2 linked regions of the Homo sapiens genome follow. The protein of the gene in region 2 interacts with the protein of the main gene of each other region in a biochemical or structural test. Each region holds a gene or a part of one and is shown on either strand. Other genes may lie near its edges. The genes, in order: PAIP1 and EIF3B.

Evidence for each region.
Region 1: the proteins of EIF3B (region 2) and PAIP1 form a complex in vitro, tested with the Homo sapiens proteins (one study listed by BioGRID).

What each region holds. Positions count from the first base shown.
Region 1 is NC_000005.10:43,554,078-43,561,296, reverse strand, and holds the start of PAIP1 (polyadenylate-binding protein-interacting protein 1), read left to right. Parts: upstream 1-4,219; 5' UTR 4,220-4,450; coding exon 4,451-4,715; intron 4,716-5,297; coding exon 5,298-5,467; intron 5,468-7,219. UniProt on the Homo sapiens protein: Acts as a coactivator in the regulation of translation initiation of poly(A)-containing mRNAs. Its stimulatory activity on translation is mediated via its action on PABPC1. Competes with PAIP2 for binding to PABPC1.
Region 2 is NC_000007.14:2,357,827-2,368,665, reverse strand, and holds part of EIF3B (eukaryotic translation initiation factor 3 subunit B), read right to left. Parts: intron 7,957-10,839; coding exon 7,764-7,956; intron 6,022-7,763; coding exon 5,902-6,021; intron 5,597-5,901; coding exon 5,539-5,596; intron 5,035-5,538; coding exon 4,906-5,034; intron 4,295-4,905; coding exon 4,137-4,294; intron 2,350-4,136; coding exon 2,218-2,349; intron 2,142-2,217; coding exon 2,075-2,141; intron 1,733-2,074; coding exon of another isoform or gene 1,709-1,732; exon of another isoform or gene 1,694-1,708; intron 1,668-1,693; coding exon 1,621-1,667; intron 1-1,620.

The sequences.
Region 1 (7,219 bases), on a different chromosome or scaffold from region 2:
GTTTTCTAAAGTGACTATAGCATTTTACATTCTCACCAGCAATGTATGAGCAACACAGTTCCTAGTTTCTCTACATCCTTGAATTTGCATTGTCACTATTGTTTATTTAAGCTATTCGAATAAGTAGGTAGTGAAATCTCAGTGGTTTTAAAAAAATTTTCCTACTGGCTAATTATGTTGAACATTTTTCATAGGCTTATGCTATCTGTATATTCCCTTCAGTGAAGTGTTCTTTCATTTATGTTTGGCCCTTTTCTAACTGAACTGTCCTTTTACAGTTGAGTTAGGTGTTTTGTTTGTTTGGGTTTTTTTCAGACGGAGTCACGCTCAACCCAGGCTGGAGTGCAGTGGTGCAATCTCGGCTCACTGCAACCTCTGCCTCCCGGGTTCAAGCGATTCCCCTGCCTCAGCCTCCCAAGTAGCTGGGATTACAAGCACGCATCACCATGCCTGCTAATTTTTGTATTTTTAGTAGAGACGGGGTTTCACATGTTGTCCAGGTTGGTCTCGAACTCCTGACCTCAGGTAATCTGTCCGCCTCAGCCTCCCATAGTGCTGGGATCGCACCTGGCTATAGTACTCTCAATACAGTTGAGTTCTGAGAGTACTTTATATATTCTAGATACAAGTCTTTTGTCAAATATGTGGTGCCTTCATCCATTTTTGTTGCTATAAAGGAATAGCTGAGGCTGGGTAATTTATAAAGAAAAGGGTTTCATTTGGCTCACTATTCTGCAGGCTGTACTAGAAGCATGGCACCAACATCTGCTTCTGGTGAGGGCTTCAGCCTGCTTCTATGCATGGCAGAAAGTGAAGGGGAGACAGTGTGCAGAGATTACATGGCAAGAGAGGAAGCATGAGACAGGGGGAGTGTGCCAGGCTCTTTTCAACAACCAGCTCTTGGGGAAACTCCTTGGGAACTAGTAAAACCATAACTCATTCGTTACTGTGAGAATGGCACCATGCCATTCATGAGGAATCTGCCACCATGACCCAAACGCCTTCCATTAGGCCCCACCTCCAACATTCAGGATCAAGTTTCAACAGGAGGCTTGGAGGGTCAAATATACAAACTATACCATGTGGTTTGCAAATATTTCCTCTTGCATATTTATGAAAATTTTCTCCTGTTAGCTGGCCTTGAAGGCTGTACTGTCTACTCCCATAAGGTCTAATGATGATCCTGAGGTCAATAAGTTCTAAAAAAACAGTCTTTTTTTTTTTTTTTTTTTTTTTACCATCACTAGACTGGTGACCTAAGGAAAGGCAGGACCATTGCAGGTGAGTCCTATTTCTGTTAAAAGCTTATTATGGACTAAGTACTGGGTTGGACCTAAAGGATTAAAAGGCATCCTCTGTCTTCAGAGGGCTAGTTTAGGGAAGGAGACATTTAAATAAACCAAATACTAACGATAACAATCTGGCATGCTAAGTACCAAGACAGTTTTCCCAGGGTATACTTATCACAAGGGAGAGAATCTAAGATTAGGCAGCTTGGGAAGTCTTACTGGAGAATGCCTTTCAAGTACAGTTTAAGGAAACATTTTTTTCATAGTTCACAGCAGGTCCTTTTCCATATTACAACATATTTTCCAATTTGTCCAAATTTAGTTCTACTCTCCTTTCACCATAAATTAATAAAAAAGGCATACACGTGGATGAGGAGCACTTTGATGATTCTCTTTAGGGAGTTCCACATGGTGTTCACACGTTCATGTGTTTCTGTCTATGCATTTTGCAATACCTGCCAGTTAGCTCTAAAACAGTCCCAAGATGGATCTGAGCCCTTGCGGTATCTTGGCACCTTTTATGTAAAGTGAAAATATTGGAATGTCTATCTCACAGGATATGAGGATAAAATAAAATGATAAAATAAAAGCTCTTAAAAGGTGACTGACGCATAATAAATATTAGATATTTTTATTATCATGATGCAAAATCCATTCGTGTTATCTCCAAGTCCACCATCCACACATTATAAGAATAGGGCAAAAGTTATACAGTAACAAATACAGAGAAGGCAAAGGATATCTTACCTAATTTTCCTAACAAGAGGGTGTGAAGATGTCGTGACATCACCATGGATGCAGAATGGCCTTATCTTCACATGGGAAAGTCCCAGTTGTTAGAAAAGGTGCTGTTCATCATAAAAGTTTTAAGGGGAAATGAAAAGGTGGTGAGTGCAAACAAAAGCTTGGGGCAGAGTTGGGGCATCTACTTCAGTGGAACATAACTCATTGTTAGTTTTTTAGCATAGTTTATGGGTCTTTCCTGTATGATAAAAAAGTCCAGGCAAGAAGTGACTGGTGACCACATACAATAATGAATTTGAAAATATTAAAATTGTAATTTTTAAATTGTAATCTTGTCTCTGCAATATATGCTGAGTGTTACCACACAGTTATTATTTTACAGATGAGGAAAGTGAGGCTCAGAGAAGCTAAACCCCTTACTTACTCAAAATCACACAGACAGCAATAGTCAAGAGTGGAATCCCAACTAAGCTCTGGCAGACTGAATCCTAAACTTTCCGTACACCGAAGAGCCACACGTACTGCTGGCTTCCTTCCCTGACTTCATTATTTTGCCTAACATCAATAGCATGAACCATTTATTCATGATTGCCCTCGGTGAAGCCATTTTCTCATTCGTTTAGGGGAAGACATTGTTTTCTTTATTAATGAGAAGAGAAAACGGTTAACAAGAGTTTGTGTCCCTAATTGAAATGATTCTTAAGATGAAAAGATAGAAAAACATGAAACCCTGCTTAAAACAAAAGGCTAAAATCAGAATTTATGGAGATGGATCAATCCAACAGTAAAGAAATCAATTTTTCCTTCCTTGTCGTTACTTATATTCATCTATCCTTTATTTGGCATTAATACTGTCAGGCCTGACAAAAACAACAATTTACATATTAATAAAATCTAGAATTGTGCTGTGCAACGCAGTAGCCACTAGCCACATGTGGCTCTTGAGCCCTTGAAATGTGCCAATCCCGACTAAGATGTGCCATAAGTGTAAAATATACACTGGATTTCAACTAGTATCTAAAAAACAGAGAAAATATTTAATATTTTAAATCGCATGTTAAAAAACCATTTTGAACATAATGGATTAAATAAATTTAAATTAATTTCACCTGGTTTTTGTTTTGTTTTGTTTTGTTTTTTGAGACAGAGTTTGGCTCTTGTTGCCCAGGCTGGAGTGCAACGGTACGATCTCGGCTCACTGCAACCTCTGCCTCCTGCGTTCAAGCGATTCTCCTGCCTCAGCCTCCAGAATAGCTAGGATTACAGGCATGTGCCACCACGCCCGGCTAACTTTGTATTTTTAGTAGAGACGGGGTTTCTCCATGTTGGTCTGGCTGGTCTCGAACTCCCGACCTCAGGTGATCCGCCCCCCTCGGCCTCCCAAAGTGCTGGGATTACAGGCGTGAGCCACTGCGCCTGGCCACACCTGTTTCTTTTCACTCATTTAATGTGGCTTCTCCAAAATGTAAAATTACATAAGTGGCTTGCATTTGTGGCTCGCATTATATTTTCATTGGACAGCACTGATGCAAGATGAAAAAGAGGGCAGAGTTACACTGAAAGGTAGCACATTTTCTTGAAATTTCTGGAGGGGAAGGTTAACGGGAAGAGAACGAAGCTTGTTAAACGTAGGTGTGACCTACTGTGGTAAACACCTAGGGTGAATTAAAGAGGGGACACATATTTTGATTCCGTTTCTACTCCCTTCCCCCGATGCTAACGGAGCAGGTGACAGTCTCCCAGGGACCACTCCTCAGCAGTCCGCGGGTCTCGGCCGGAGCCGAGTCATTGAACACACCTGTGCGCCAGCGAACCCTGGCGCAGGGTCCACGCCCCCTCCCCCCGTGTTTTTATTTCCCGGGCGTCAACTGTCGGTCTCGCACGTCTCTCCTGAGAACTACCGAGTAGGTCGGGCCTGCCTGTGGTAAGCGTCCCCCTCACCCCTCATCCCTCATCCCCCCCAGCCTGGCCCCGGAACCGAGATGCCCCTGCCCGAGCCTGGCTGCGGGCCGGCAGGTGGCCAAGACGCCACTCGGCGGGCGGCCTGCTGGGCCCGGCGGCCGGCCAGCCGCGAACTGGAGGATCCTCGCGGGCGCGTCCCGGGCCTCCGGGCCGCAGGGGGCCGCTGTGACCCGCCTGCGCCCCTGCCGCGCCGAAGGCGGGGAGCCGGGTTTTGGGGGAGAACTGGAAAGCCGAGGGTAGCCGAGCGGGGCGGGCGCTCTGGAGCGGCGGGTGCTCGGGCTGCCGTCCGCTCCGCCAGAAGCACCGAGCAGCCGAGCCGGGGCCCGCCGCCCTCCTCCTCCATGAGGCCCGAGTGAGGCGCGGCGGCTATAGCCGACCCGCGGCGCCTTCCCCCCGCGTCCTATCGCGAGCGCAGCGGCAGCGGCCCCTGGAGGAGGAGGCGGAGGAGGAGGAGCATGTCGGACGGTTTCGATCGGGCCCCAGGTGCTGGTCGGGGCCGGAGCCGGGGCCTGGGCCGCGGAGGGGGCGGGCCTGAGGGCGGCGGTTTCCCGAACGGAGCGGGGCCTGCTGAGCGGGCGCGGCACCAGCCGCCGCAACCCAAAGCCCCGGGCTTCCTGCAGCCACCGCCGCTGCGCCAGCCCAGGACGACCCCGCCGCCAGGGGCCCAGTGCGAGGTCCCCGCCAGCCCCCAGCGGCCTTCCCGGCCCGGGGCGCTCCCAGGTACGGAGCAGCTCTAAGGGCCCCAGTCCTCCTTGGCGAACGCTTCCCCACGGCCCTCCACGCGTGCCGAGGCCCGACGCGCTGTCTGCGGTCCCCACCCCCGGTTCCCCGAAAGCATTCCCCGAGAGGGCCGCGTGACCGGGTAGGGACGGGCCCGGAACCGGGTTTGGAAGGTGTCTGCTGGAATCCTTTGTGCGCCTGGCTGGGGGGAGGGGCCGGGTGCGCGGTCTCGGAGTTCGGGGTCCCGGGAGGAAGTAAAAATCGCCTCCCCTCAGCAGCCCTCTAAAGCGAGACCCTAGCGAGTAACCACCTCTTTTCCACCGACCCCTTTAAAACGACAGAGAGGAAAAAAGCTCGCAAGCACTCATTTGAGAGGCAGGTATGCCCATAACGGAGTCACAGCAAGTCTATTGTTCCTTTTTGTAGGCTGTCTGTACACATTCCGGCGATAACCATAAATTTCATGATGGTTCCTGTTTAACTCTTAAAAACAGACGCTTTTCAGATGGTTTTTCAGTATATAGCAAGTTGCTGTACAAAGGAAAGAATGCATCTGACGCCCCGTTTTTTTTTCTTTTGCAGAGCAAACGAGGCCCCTGAGAGCTCCACCTAGTTCACAGGATAAAATCCCACAGCAGAACTCGGAGTCAGCAATGGCTAAGCCCCAGGTGGTTGTAGCTCCTGTATTAATGTCTAAGCTGTCTGTGAATGCCCCTGAATTTTACCCTTCAGGTTATTCTTCCAGTTACACAGTAAGTACACCCTTTTTCCTACAACTCTGGGTTAATTTACTGGAATAATGTGGTTGTTACTTTGTTAATCAGAGTATGTTTGTGCTTTCTGTACTACACGTAAAAAAATTTTTTTATTGTGAATGTTTTGAATTATTGAACTCAGAAGGAAACAAAGCTGATTCAGAAATACATTTTGTAGTTATATTCAAGGTATTAGAATGTAAGCTTGAGATACACATCTGTGTTCTTGTTTCTAGTGATTATTCCATTATGTTAAAATAGACATAGTTTTGATCCTAATTATTGTATGCAGAAATGTCCTACGGGGTTGTGATAAAGTATTTACATAGGTATAAAGAATGTTTAAACTTTCAGTTTTTCTTTGTCACTTATATAACAACTTTAAAAAATAGTCACTTTTCTTAAATAGCCGTACAAAGCACAGTTGGAATATGTAGAAAGGAATTTGTTGTACTGGATAAACCCAGATGAGTAAATGCATAGGGATTAATTATAGAGAAGTGGGAGGGAATCATTGGAGAAATGATTGATGATACTTTAGCTTAAATCCTGTCTTTCCTATCTTCTTAGTTTTATTGAAGTATAGCAGAGAATAGTGTACTTAAGTGTTAGCTCAGTCTCATAAAGTGAACACTCAACTAACCAGCATCCCAGTCAGGAAATAGAACATTATCAACATCCCGAAAACCCACTCTGTCTCCTTCCAGTTGTTCTTGATGTCCAAGTATAGCACTGTTTTGACTTCATAGGATAGTTTTGCCTGTGTTCAAAGTTTATATAAATAAAGTCATATAGAATATATTCTTTCTCACTTTCAATATCAAGATTACTCCATATTGTAGCATATAATTGGAGGTGACTTATTTTTATAACATTCCATTGCATGAATATATCCCATTTGTCTGTTGATGAACGTTGGTAGCTTTCACTCTTGGGTTATTATGAATAGGGCACATTTTGTGTCTTGCTGGCTGTATGCCTTTATTTCTTTTTGGTATATTACCAAGGTATGGAGTTGCTGGGACTTAGGGTAGCCAGCTTTAGCAGAGACTGCCAAGTAGTTTTCCAGAGATTGTTCCACTGTACATTCTGAGTAGTGTATGATTTCCAGTTACTCTGCTTCCTGGTCGGCACTTGGTATTTTCTGTTTAACCATTCTGGTGGGCATATAGTATCTAGTTGTGGTTTTAATTTATATTTCCCTTATAACTGATAATGACACACCTTTTTTATTACCTCTTTTTGGCTCTCCTTCCATATTTGACAGTAAAAGTATGGAAAAAGCTGTGTTCCATGTTTTAGATACTCCATGATTCTTATGCTGTATAGGAAAAAGCTTTGGGATTGGAAAGAAAAAGATACAGGCATAGCAGGAAAAGCAATTGATATGGGGTGAAAAAGGCCATCTATCGTGTAAGGTAGAAATGAGAGCATCTTGAGTTCTTGCCAGAAAATTGTATTTAGCTCACAGAGGAAAAGAACCATTAGAGCCACTGTAAGAGGTTGAATAAACTCTTAAGGATGCTTGTTCTAGCAGCTACAAGCAGGTTCCCATTTATTTTCTTCCCTATTGACTTGGGCTGTTTTATGATGGAGGGATACAGGGGTGTGTTTGTGTATGTAATAATCGTGTATCAACTATTTTTACGTGGTTCAAGTGACTTTGGGGCTGTCGAGCAGTATATAAAGTCATGTTAGTCCACCTACTTTGAGCCACTGCATCTTTTAGGCATTCCTTGCCATCCTCTA
Region 2 (10,839 bases):
CTTAAAAGGCTGGAAACCCCACCCTCCTCAGTTTCTAGATCAAAGACGAGGTAGATGGAAGGAAGCCGACTCAAGGCTCTGGCCTTGAAAATTCATTTCTAGGCACGGGAAGGGGTCACTGAAGTGGTGCCTCAAGGGTGGCGGGCCCAATGCTGAGCAGCCTTGCTGCCCACTGACTCAAGCCTCCATCCTTGTGTCCAGAACAAACTCACCTTAGGCCGGGCGCGGTGGCTCACACCTGTAATCCCTGCACTTTGAGAGGCTGAGGCGGGCAGGCGGATCACTTGAGGTCAGGAGTTCGAGACCAGCCTGGCCAACATGGTGAAACCCCGACTCTTCTAAAATATACAAAAAATTAGCTGGGCGTAGTGGTTGCGCGCCTGTAATTCCAGCTACTCAGGAGACTGAAGCACCAGAATCGTTTGAACCTGGGAGGTGAAGGCTGCAGTCAGCCGAGATCACGCCACTGTACTCCAGCCTGGGCAACAGAGTAAGACTCTGTCTCAAAAAAGATTTAAAAATGGCTGGGTGTGGTGGCTCACGCCAGTAATCCCAGCACTTTGGGAGGCTGAGGTGGGCAGATCACTTGAGGTCAGGAGTTCTGAGACCAGCATGGCCAACACAGTGAAACCCCATCTCTACTAAAAATACAAAAATTAGCTAGGCATGGTGGCAGGCACCTGCAGTCCCAGCTACTTGGGAGTCTAAGGCAAGGAGAATCACTTGAACCCAGGAGGTGGAAATTGCAGTGAGCCAAGATCTCGCCACTCTACACCAGCCTGCAAGACAGAGTAAGACTCTGCCTCAAAAAAAAAAAAAAAAAAAAAAAAAAAAAAAAAATTTTAAAAAAAGAACAAACTCACCGTTTTCTCTCCAACTGGTTAAGAACTGAGTGACAGGCTGGGCATGGTGGCTCACGCCTGTAATCTCAGCACTTTGGGAGGCTGAGGCGGGCAGATCACAAGGTCAGGAGTTTGAGACCAGCCCAGCCAACATGGTGAAACCCCATCCCTACTAAAAATACAAAAATTAGCCGGGCTTGGTGGCACATGCCTGTAGTCCCAGCTACTCGGGAGGTTGAGGCAGAAGAATCACTTGAACCCAGGAGGTGGAGGTTGCAGCGAGCCAAGATCGTATCACTGCACTCCAGCCTGACGGAGCGAGACTCTGTCTCTAACAACAACAACAAAAAGCTGAGTGCTAAAGGAGAGACAGCAAATAAAGGAAACCAACTGCAATGGACCACGTCTGTGTCCCCCAGATTCACAGGGTGAAATTCTAACCCCCTGGGGTGACGGCATGGGGTGGGGCCTTTTGGGGGGTGGGAGGTCCTGAGGGGGAAGCCCTTGGGAATGAGATGAGAGACTTTACAGAACAGGCCACGGAGGCCTTCCTCCAGGGAAGGCTGGACCGAGGGGCTGTCCACTAGGAGGGAGGTGGGCCGTCACCAGACAGTCTGCAGGCACCCTGACCTCAAGCTCCCAAGCTCCAGAACTGGGAGAAAGAAATCTCAGCTGTCATAAGCCACCCAGCCTATGGTATTGTGTTTTTTTTTTTTTTTTTGGTATTGTGTTAAGCAGCCTGAACACACTAAGACACCAAACTGATAAGAATACTCACTTTATCCCAGAGATCTTCAAACTCTTCTTGTCCAAAAGACCCATAGACTGCCCAAAAAAAAGGAAGGCTGCAGTTGAGTCAAATCATGTCAGTGTCTCAGAAACACACCTAACTTTTTACAAAAGGAAACAAGAGTCTGATGTGAGTTTGCCTAGGGGGCAGTGCACACAGAGCGTGACAGTGAACCCATCCACCCACCCGCCACCCAGAACTGCAGTTCTGAAGCCCACTGCATTAACTCCCATCCAGGACTTCCCACGGCTGCGCCAGGTGGGCAGGAGTGACTGAAGAGCTCTGCCCAGAGCAGGGGCAGTTAAAAAGGCACAGGAGACAGGCCTTTCCTATGCATCTGTGAAACCTCCTCCTCCTCTTCTAGCACAAATAAGGAAAGGCACCACACCCCGGTTACAAGCAAGGACCGGACGGGGCGTTTGCCATCACTGAGGCCACTTACAGGAGTTTCATAGATGCTAAGCGTATCCAGGGTCATTCTGGCAAAGAATTTGCCATCATGGCTCCACCTAAGAAAAACAAAAGTGCCAGGGTATTCCCATGAAAAGACAAAGGCTACAGAGCTCGTTACAATGGTCCACTTACTTAAAAATAGGCCAATGGGCTGAGCTCTCACAGTGAAAACCCCTCTTCTTGTGCCCCGTAAGGATGTCCCAGATGATTATGGCCTGAGGGTCATCCTGCGTGTCCATCAGGGGGCTAAAGGTCACCAGGTACCTAGAAGAGAAGGGCAACACTGTACACTATCCTCCTCTCACGAGAGGATCACAGTCTGTCTGTGCGGCCAGAACACGCCGTCAGAACTCGCGGAACCAGCTCTCTCCCCAAACCCCACACTGCCCGGCCCCAAGAGACCCAAGCGGAAGCGGGAAGCAGCGGCGCTTGTTCATTCTGGTGTCAATACGCTGCAGGCGCTCCGGTTTCTCCAAGATCAGCACAGAAGATCTCACCGATCCCACACAAGGCTGCTAAGTGATCCAGAGGGTGGCGCAGTGTGGAACTCTATCTTTACCCATGTTTAATAAAGACTAACAAGTTAAAAAAATACGGCTGGGCGCAGTGGCTCACACCTGTAATCCCAGCACTTTGGGAGGCCGAGGTGGGTGGATCACCCAAGGTCCGGAGTTTAAGACAAGCTTGGCCAACCATGGCCGACATGGTGAGACCCTGTCTCTACTAAAAATACAAAAATTAGCCGGGCGTGGTGGCAGGCACTTGTAATCCCAGCTACTCAGGAGGCTGAGGCAGGAGAATAGCTTGAACCCGGGAGGTGGAGGTTGCAGTGAACTGGTATCGTGCCACTACATTCCAGTCTGGGCGACGCATGAAACTCAGTTTCAAAAAAAAAAAAAACAAAACAAACAAACAAACAAACAAACAAAAAAACAAGTCCCATCCAGTTCGAAAGCCAGCACAGGTCTGATAGAAACTTCAGAGCCTGGGGGCTCCTCCCAGCCATGATTTACCTGACTGCTGGCTTGTCTGGAGCTACTGCACCTGCTTACTCAGTTCACACAAAGTGTGTAACAGACGGTCCCTTACAACACCAGAGGGGAAGGCAGACACAACCCATGAGGGCGAAAACAGAGCGGCCCCAGCTCGCCTCGCACTGCCTTCCACAACTGCCCCTTTCCCTAGAGTGGCCCCCGTTCGCCTCACACTGCCTTCCACAACTGTCCCTTTCCCTAGAGTGGCCCCAGCTCGCCTCACACTGCCTCCCACAACCGCCCCTTTCCCTAGCAGGCCTCCGACAGCCGGATTAGCTAGATCAAAAATCACGGCTCGGCCAGGTGCGGTGGCTCACGCCTGTAATCCCAGCACTCTGGGAGGTCAAGGCAGGAGATCACTTGAGCCCAGGGGTTCAAGACTACCTTGTACAACAAAGTGAGACCCCCATCTCTACAAAAAATAAAATTAGCCATATGTCATGGCGTGTGCCTGCGGTCCCCGCTACTCAGGAAGGCTGAGGTGGGAGAACCGCTTGACCTGGGAGGCTGGGGTTGCAATGAGCCTGCAATGGTGCCACTGGGTGGCGCCAAGCCTGGGTGATAGAGGAAGGACAATTTATTATCTGTAAAATACGTGACCTTAGACTAGATCCTGAACTGAAGGAAAGTAAGTATTATACAGAACATTATTAGGTCAAGTAACAAAATCAGAATATGGCAATACATTGAAGTATTAAATGAATGGTAAATCCCTGAAGTCAGTACCCACACTATGGTCACACTAACAAAATCCTATTTCTAGGAATACACATTCAGGGCTAAAGGGACATGTTATTTCAACTCACTCCCAAATGGCTCAGGAAAAAATATCTGTATAGGAGATGATGACGTAAATGCAACCAAATGTGAGAAGATCTCAGTAAAAAGCTTATTAGCGTTCTGCATACTCCCGTATTTTTCTACTAAGTTTGAAATGCTACAAAATGAAAGATCACCTGTAGAAGGCTGGCATGGGGTGAAATGCATAGACTCCCCTGTGTTTTTCTAGCAGCTTACCTTTCACAAGGTGAGAAGTCAATAAGCTGAACCCCTTGGTGGCTGAATCTCTGAATTTGCTTGAATTTCTCTCCCCCCCATAGAGCAATGCCTCTTTGATGAAAGGTAGCCAGGTAGGTGCCCTTAGGAGACCAACGCACATACGTCTCTGTCCATCTCTGCAGAAAAAGGCAGTGCCAACGTTAATACAACAAAATGGCAAACACAAAGACCCCTCCTACAATGAATTTATCCTACAATGAATCTGTTCTACAAACTTTTTTTTTTTTTGAGACGGAGTCTCGCTGTCTCCCAGGCTGGAGTGCAGTGGCGCAATCTCAGCTCACTGCAAGCTCCACCTCCCAGGTTCATGCCATTCTCCTGCCTCAGCCTCCCGAGTAGCGGGGACTACAGGTGCCTGCCACCATGCCCAGCTAATTTTTTTGTATTTTTAGTAGAGACGGGGTTTCACCGTGTTAGCCAGGATGGTCTCAATCTCCTGACCTCGTGATCCACCCACCTTGGCCTCCCAAAGTGCTGGGATTACAGGCGTGAGCCACCGCGCCCGGCCTATTCTGCAAACTCTTAAGTGAAATACACAAAGCCTGTTCACTTCTCAGGATTTACTTCAAAGCTGGAAGAGGAATAAAAGAAGTTGTTTTCAGAAAGTAATCTCAAAGAAAATATAACGTCACCTGCTCTTCCAGTTTTCTGATAGAAACAAAGTTCCACTTTGTTAAGGAAATACAGGAGAGGTGAGTCCCCGCCCCCAGCAGCAGCAAATACACACCGCTCTTTCTTCAATTGAGACAGGGTCTTTTACGTCATTCCAGAATATGGAAGTGCGGTCTCCACTCTCAAAAATCACACTGTACTGATCTCTGCATTCTGCCTCTTCAAGCCAGTAACGTAAGTTCCCCTTAAAAACAAAGACAAGGAATATAACATTTCATTAATTTTAATAAAAAACTCATTCACAACTATTGCTCTTAAAGATATGACAAGTTCAGTCCACATCTTAACTCCCAAGTCACACCCTAACCTCAAGTCAAGACACCGTCTAGCATTTCTTTTTTTTTTGAGACAGAGTCACGCTGTTGCCCAGGCTGGAGTCCAGTGGCACAATCATAGCTCACGGCAGCCTCAACCTCCCAGGCTCAACCTCCCAGGCTCAAGTGATCCTCCCCCCTCAGCCTCCCAGGTAGCTGGGAATACAGGTGCATGCCAGGCCCAGCTAATGTATGTATTTATTTACTTTTTGTAGAGGCGGGGGTCTCACTTTGTTGCCCAGGCTGGTCTTGAATTCCTGGGCTTAAGCGATCCTCCCACCTCAGCCTCCCTAAGTGCTGGGATTGCAGGTGTGACCCACCACACCCAGCAGCATTTCTTTAAACCACTGAGATGTAGGTTTCAGGCCACTCACCAGGTCTTTGAAAGGCTGTTTCTCTGGAATATCCCACTCGTCACTGATCGTCATATACCTGGAGAAGAAAGGAGACTGCTGAGCCCCACGCCCTGACGACTAGAAAGAGCAACTCGTGGGGGCTCCAGCATGGCCCTGCTGTGCTCCTGCCTGCCCGCCCCCAGGGCTGTGACTGGCATAACAGGGAGGGGTGCTGTAGGCCAGAAGTGTGGGGCAGGGCTGTGAAATGGCTCTGCGGCAGCCTGACCAGAAAGGATGTGAACAATCTGACAGACACCAGCACCGAGAAGCACCAAGCCACCCGCACACAGCCAGTCACTTGCACGTCAACGTCCACTTCCTTGTGGCCAAGTCTGAACTCACTTGTCAAAATCCGTAAAGAGGTTGACCCGGAATGTGTGCTGCTTGTCAAGCTTGTAGCCGTCGGCGTTCTTCACAGCATCCACAGCGTGGGCAGGGGACGCGTACTCCAGGAAAATATACCTGAGTGAGAGAGGGCCGTTGGCACATACCCACACTGTAAGGCTAGGCAGGTATGCGCTGTCCGCCCCACCCCTCTCCACGGACAAGCCCTCGGTGCCAGGAGTATCTGTGCTGCTCTTCCTGCCTCGAGCCTAAGGCAGTCACACGGGGGACAGATCCACAGCCAGGGAGCTCCTAAGTGACAGGGAAATCCTAACCAGAAGATCCGAAGTCTCTAGTTTCATTATCATAATTATAGAAAAGTTAATCAAAACGTCCATTATTTTGACTGTGGCGATGGTTTCGTGATATGTACACATCAAAATGTATTAAATTGTACGCTTTAAAACTATGCAGATTTACTGTATATCAATTATCTCAATAAAGCTGTTTAAAAAAAAATCTTGGCTGGGCGCAATGGTTCACACCTGTAATCCCAGCACTTTGGGAGGCCAAGGTGGGCAGATCACTTGAGGTCAGGAGTTCGAGACCAGCCCGGCCAACATGGTGAAACCCTGTCTCTGCTAAATATACAAAAATTAGCCGGGCATGGTGGCACATGCTTATAATCCCAGCTACTCAGGAGGCTAAGGCAGGAGAATTGCTTGAGCCTGGGAGGCGGAGGTTGCAGTGAGCCAAGATCGTGCCACTGCACTCCAGCCTGGGTGACAGAGCAAGACTCTGTCTCAATAAATAAATAAATAAATAAATAAGCAAGCAAGCAAGCCAGGCGTGGTAGTGTGCGCCTGTAATCCCGGCTACTTGGGAGGGTGGGGCAGGAGAATTGCTTGAACCCGGGAGGCGGAGGTTGCAGTGAGCTGAGATCACACCACTGCACTCCAGCCTGGGCAAGAGTGAGACTGTCTCAAACAAACAAACAAACAAAAAAAACTTAAAAGTAGTCTAATATTGTGTATTACAGGCAAGATTAGAAAGAAGCTCAGAGAGGCCGGGCGCGGTGGCTCAGGCCTGTAATCCCAGCACTTTGGGAGGCCGAGGCGGGTGGATCACAAGGTCAGGAGATCGAGACCATTCTGGCTAACATGGTGAAACCCCGTCTCTACTAAAAATACAAAAAATTAGCCGGGCGTGGTAGCGGGCGCCAGTAGTCCCAGCTACTAGGGAGGCTGAGGCGGGAGAATAGTGTGAACCTGGGAGGCGGAGCTTTCAGTGAGCCGAGATTGCGACACTGCACTCCAGCCTGGGCGACAGAGCGAGACTCCGACTCAAAAAAAAGAAAGAAAGAAAGAACCTCAGAGAATGTTTCATTATAACACGAGTAACTGAGGGTCAAGAGGCCATCCTTCAACTGACTGCCCAACACAGAAAATGCAGCAGCATTACCTGTATTTGATAATTCTAGAAACTAAAACTATTCTAGTTAGTTTTTACTTTATTTATTTATTTTAGAGACAGAGTCTTGCTCTGTCACCCAGACTGGAGTACAGCTACGTTATCATAGCTCACTGCAGCCTCCAACTCCTGGCCTCAGGCTTCAAGAGTGTTGGGAGTTTATGCATAAGCCACCATGCTGGCCTATTCTAGATAATTTTAAAAACTTTAAAACCTTAACTTAAAAAAACAAACTTTATCATCTTCTCATTCACTGCTCTGGATAGCTTCCAGCTGAGGGCGGCCTGAAGAAGTGAACGGCCCACGTGCCTGGGCAAGGCAGGAGCTGTGTTAGTAAGGATCTCCTGCAACACTCCCTCATCATGACGTGCCAGACACAGATGATACTTCTCCAACAGGAGAACACTCACCCTTTTGTCTTCCCATCCTCTTCAGGATAAAAATCATTTGTGATTTTCCCAAACTTGGAAAAGATCTTGTGGATGACATTTTTGAGTTTCTCAAGTCGGTCGGGTCCCACCTGAGGGACATTGTCCACTACAATCACCGAATCGATTCCATCTGCTTCCTGGGGCCGATCTTTGAGTACATCTCCCAGTAATTCTGAACAAGAGAGATTTTTCAAATGATCATTTTTACCAAGAAAAACATTAATACATTAACTGAGCACACTAAACAAGTCTTCAAGAAGAGACAATGAATTGTCTAAATGCTTTCACTGTGAGCAAAAGAAATCCTAACCCTAGCTTGTTTCAGATTTTAAACATGACAGCTGGGGGGACTGGAACTCTCCTCTCTCCCTTTGATGGAAATGTAAACAGTCAAGACAGGTCAATTAAGTTCTGGTAATAACCAAAGACTACAGGAGAATAACAGTGAAAAGCTTTTAACAATGCACAATGCAAATGAAGAAGACCATCTCAAGAATATCCACTATTAGATCTTCCAGAGATGCCTAGATTTTGAAAGGTTTGTTGCAACATCTAGGCAGGCAGAATCCCATCCCAATGTCAATGAAAACTGACTTTTTACAGAAGATTTTAGCAAACAAGTAAATATTTAAATGCTCAATATATTCACAGCACATTTGTGCTGTGAATACAAATTACCAGAAATTATTCAAGGAGGAACCCTCTCTCGAGTGAACTGGGATGAAAGTAGTAACTCTTCTCCCACCTCCTGTTCCCAGTGATTTTCATGTTTTCAGGCCGTGAACTGGATGGCCATTCACAGGGGATGGGGAAAAAACCCAAAGAGGAAGCGCGTCTGGGGTGAGCTTCCCCACCTCTCTCCGCTGCAGAGCCCACCACCACGCACCTTCGTTCAGAACAATCTTTACCCAATATTCCTTAGGTTAAAAAGCTCTAAGGATAAACAACTGAACTGCAGGAGACAGGGATGTGACAGTGTCTTTCCTACTCACGTAACACTCAACACAACGCCTGACACCGGACGTGGGTGTCGCATCAAGCAGTTCTCCAGGGGCCACCAGCTGGGTGTCCTCTAACTTAATCCAATTCAGACACTATCTACCAGGAATTAGCATCAGATCCCACAGGCTGAAGGCTCAGCCCCAAAGACTGGCCCCCATTTCAGATGGCAGTCGCAAGTAGTGGGCTGTCACCTCCGGTTCTGACCGACAGGCTACAAAGCAGGGCTCCCACTATCCCTCGCTTCTTGGGTTCCATTAATTTACTGCAGCAGCTTACAGAATTCAGAGAGCTAGGTTTGCCAGCTTATTATAACGGACGTTACAGAGGATATAGACGAAAAGGCAGATGGAGGAGAAGCGCAGAGCCTCCCTGTGCTCTCCAGGCCACCACCCTGCAGAAGCCTCCACCTGTTCCGCTGCATGGAGCCCCTGAACCTGGTCCTTTTGGGTTTCTATGAAGATCTCATTATAGAGGCGTGATTAATGACATCACTGAGCACCGGTGATCAACTCAACTTTCAGCCCTCTTCCTTCTGGGTGGCAGGGGGAGACCTAAAAGGTCCCACCCTCTAATCACGTGGTTGGTTCCCTGGCAAGGAGCCCCAGCCATCAATCAAGTCCTCGTCTACAAAAAGACACTTACCACTTTGGAAATTACAAGGGTTTAGACGCTGAGTGCCAAGAGCCAGGCAGAGCCCAAATACACATTTCTTAATTATATCACAAAGAGCCTTTTTGAAAAACACTATCAGGGCAGAGACCGGCACTTAAACTAGGAGACTGGAGAATATACAAGCTCCTGAAACAACTTTTTTTTTTCTTTGTAAAGAGACAGGGTCTTGTTATGCTGCCCAGGCTAGCCTGGAACTCCTGGGCTCTAGCAATCCTCCTGCCTCAGCCTCCCAAGTAGCAGGGACTACAGGTGGGAGCTGCCACCCCCACTGAGATTAAATAACAGTATTTTTTTCTTAGTGGTAGGTGAAGCTGTTCTTGATGTGATGAAATGCCTCGCAGGGCTGCTGGAAAGCATCACGTGTCAGAATTTAGAACACGGCCAGGCTCAGTGGCTCACGCCTGTAATCCCAGCATTTTGGGAGGCCGAGGCAGGCAGATTACCTGAGGCCAGGAGTTCAAGACCAGCCTGGCCAACATGGTGAAACCTGTCCCTAATAAAAATACGAGAAAAATGATCCAAGCATGGTGGTGGGTGCCTGTAATTCCAGCTACTGGAGAGGCTGGGGCAGGAGAATCGCTTGAACCCAGGAGATGGAGGTTGCAGTGAGCCAAGATCATGCCACTGCACTCCAGCCTGGGAGACAGAGTGAGACTCCATCTCAAATAATAATAATAATGATAATTCCAACATACTAAATATGCAGATGTCCGAAAATATTCTTTACTGTATTTATTCTCAAAAGTTGGCTGGGCATGGTGGCTCACTCCAGCGACAGAGCAAGACTCCGTCTCAAAAAAACACTTTCGGAAATATTGAAAACTGACCCAGCATGGTGGCTCACGCCTGTAATCCCAGCATTTTTGGAAGCCAAGGAAGGCAAATCACATGAGGCCAGGAGTTCGAGACCAGCCTGGCCAACAAGGCAAAACCCCATCTGTATTAAAAATACAAAAAGTAGCCAGGCATGGTGGCACATGCTTATAATCCCAGCTACTTGGGAGGCTGAGGCAGGAAAATCGCTTGAAGCGGGGAGGCAGAGGCTGCGGTGAGCCATTGCACTCCAGTCTGAGCAAGAGAATGAGACTCTGTCTCAAAAAAAAAAAGGAAATATTGAAAATACTGCCTTAAAAAATAATCGCCGTTTTATTTTCAACGATGCTAAAATTGAGACGAACAAGAGAAAAAAAAAGGGAAAAAGGCAGTTGCCAGTCACTGCAGTGCCGGACACCCTGCTATGGAAACTAGTCAAATCCTAGGGTAACTTCTAAAGCACTTACCATACAATTAAATAGCCTGACAAGCCTGATCTGAATTTATAAGGCTGCAATAAAAAGCTCAACTTTTACACAAATTGGGTACTCCTTCCCACAAGCTCAAA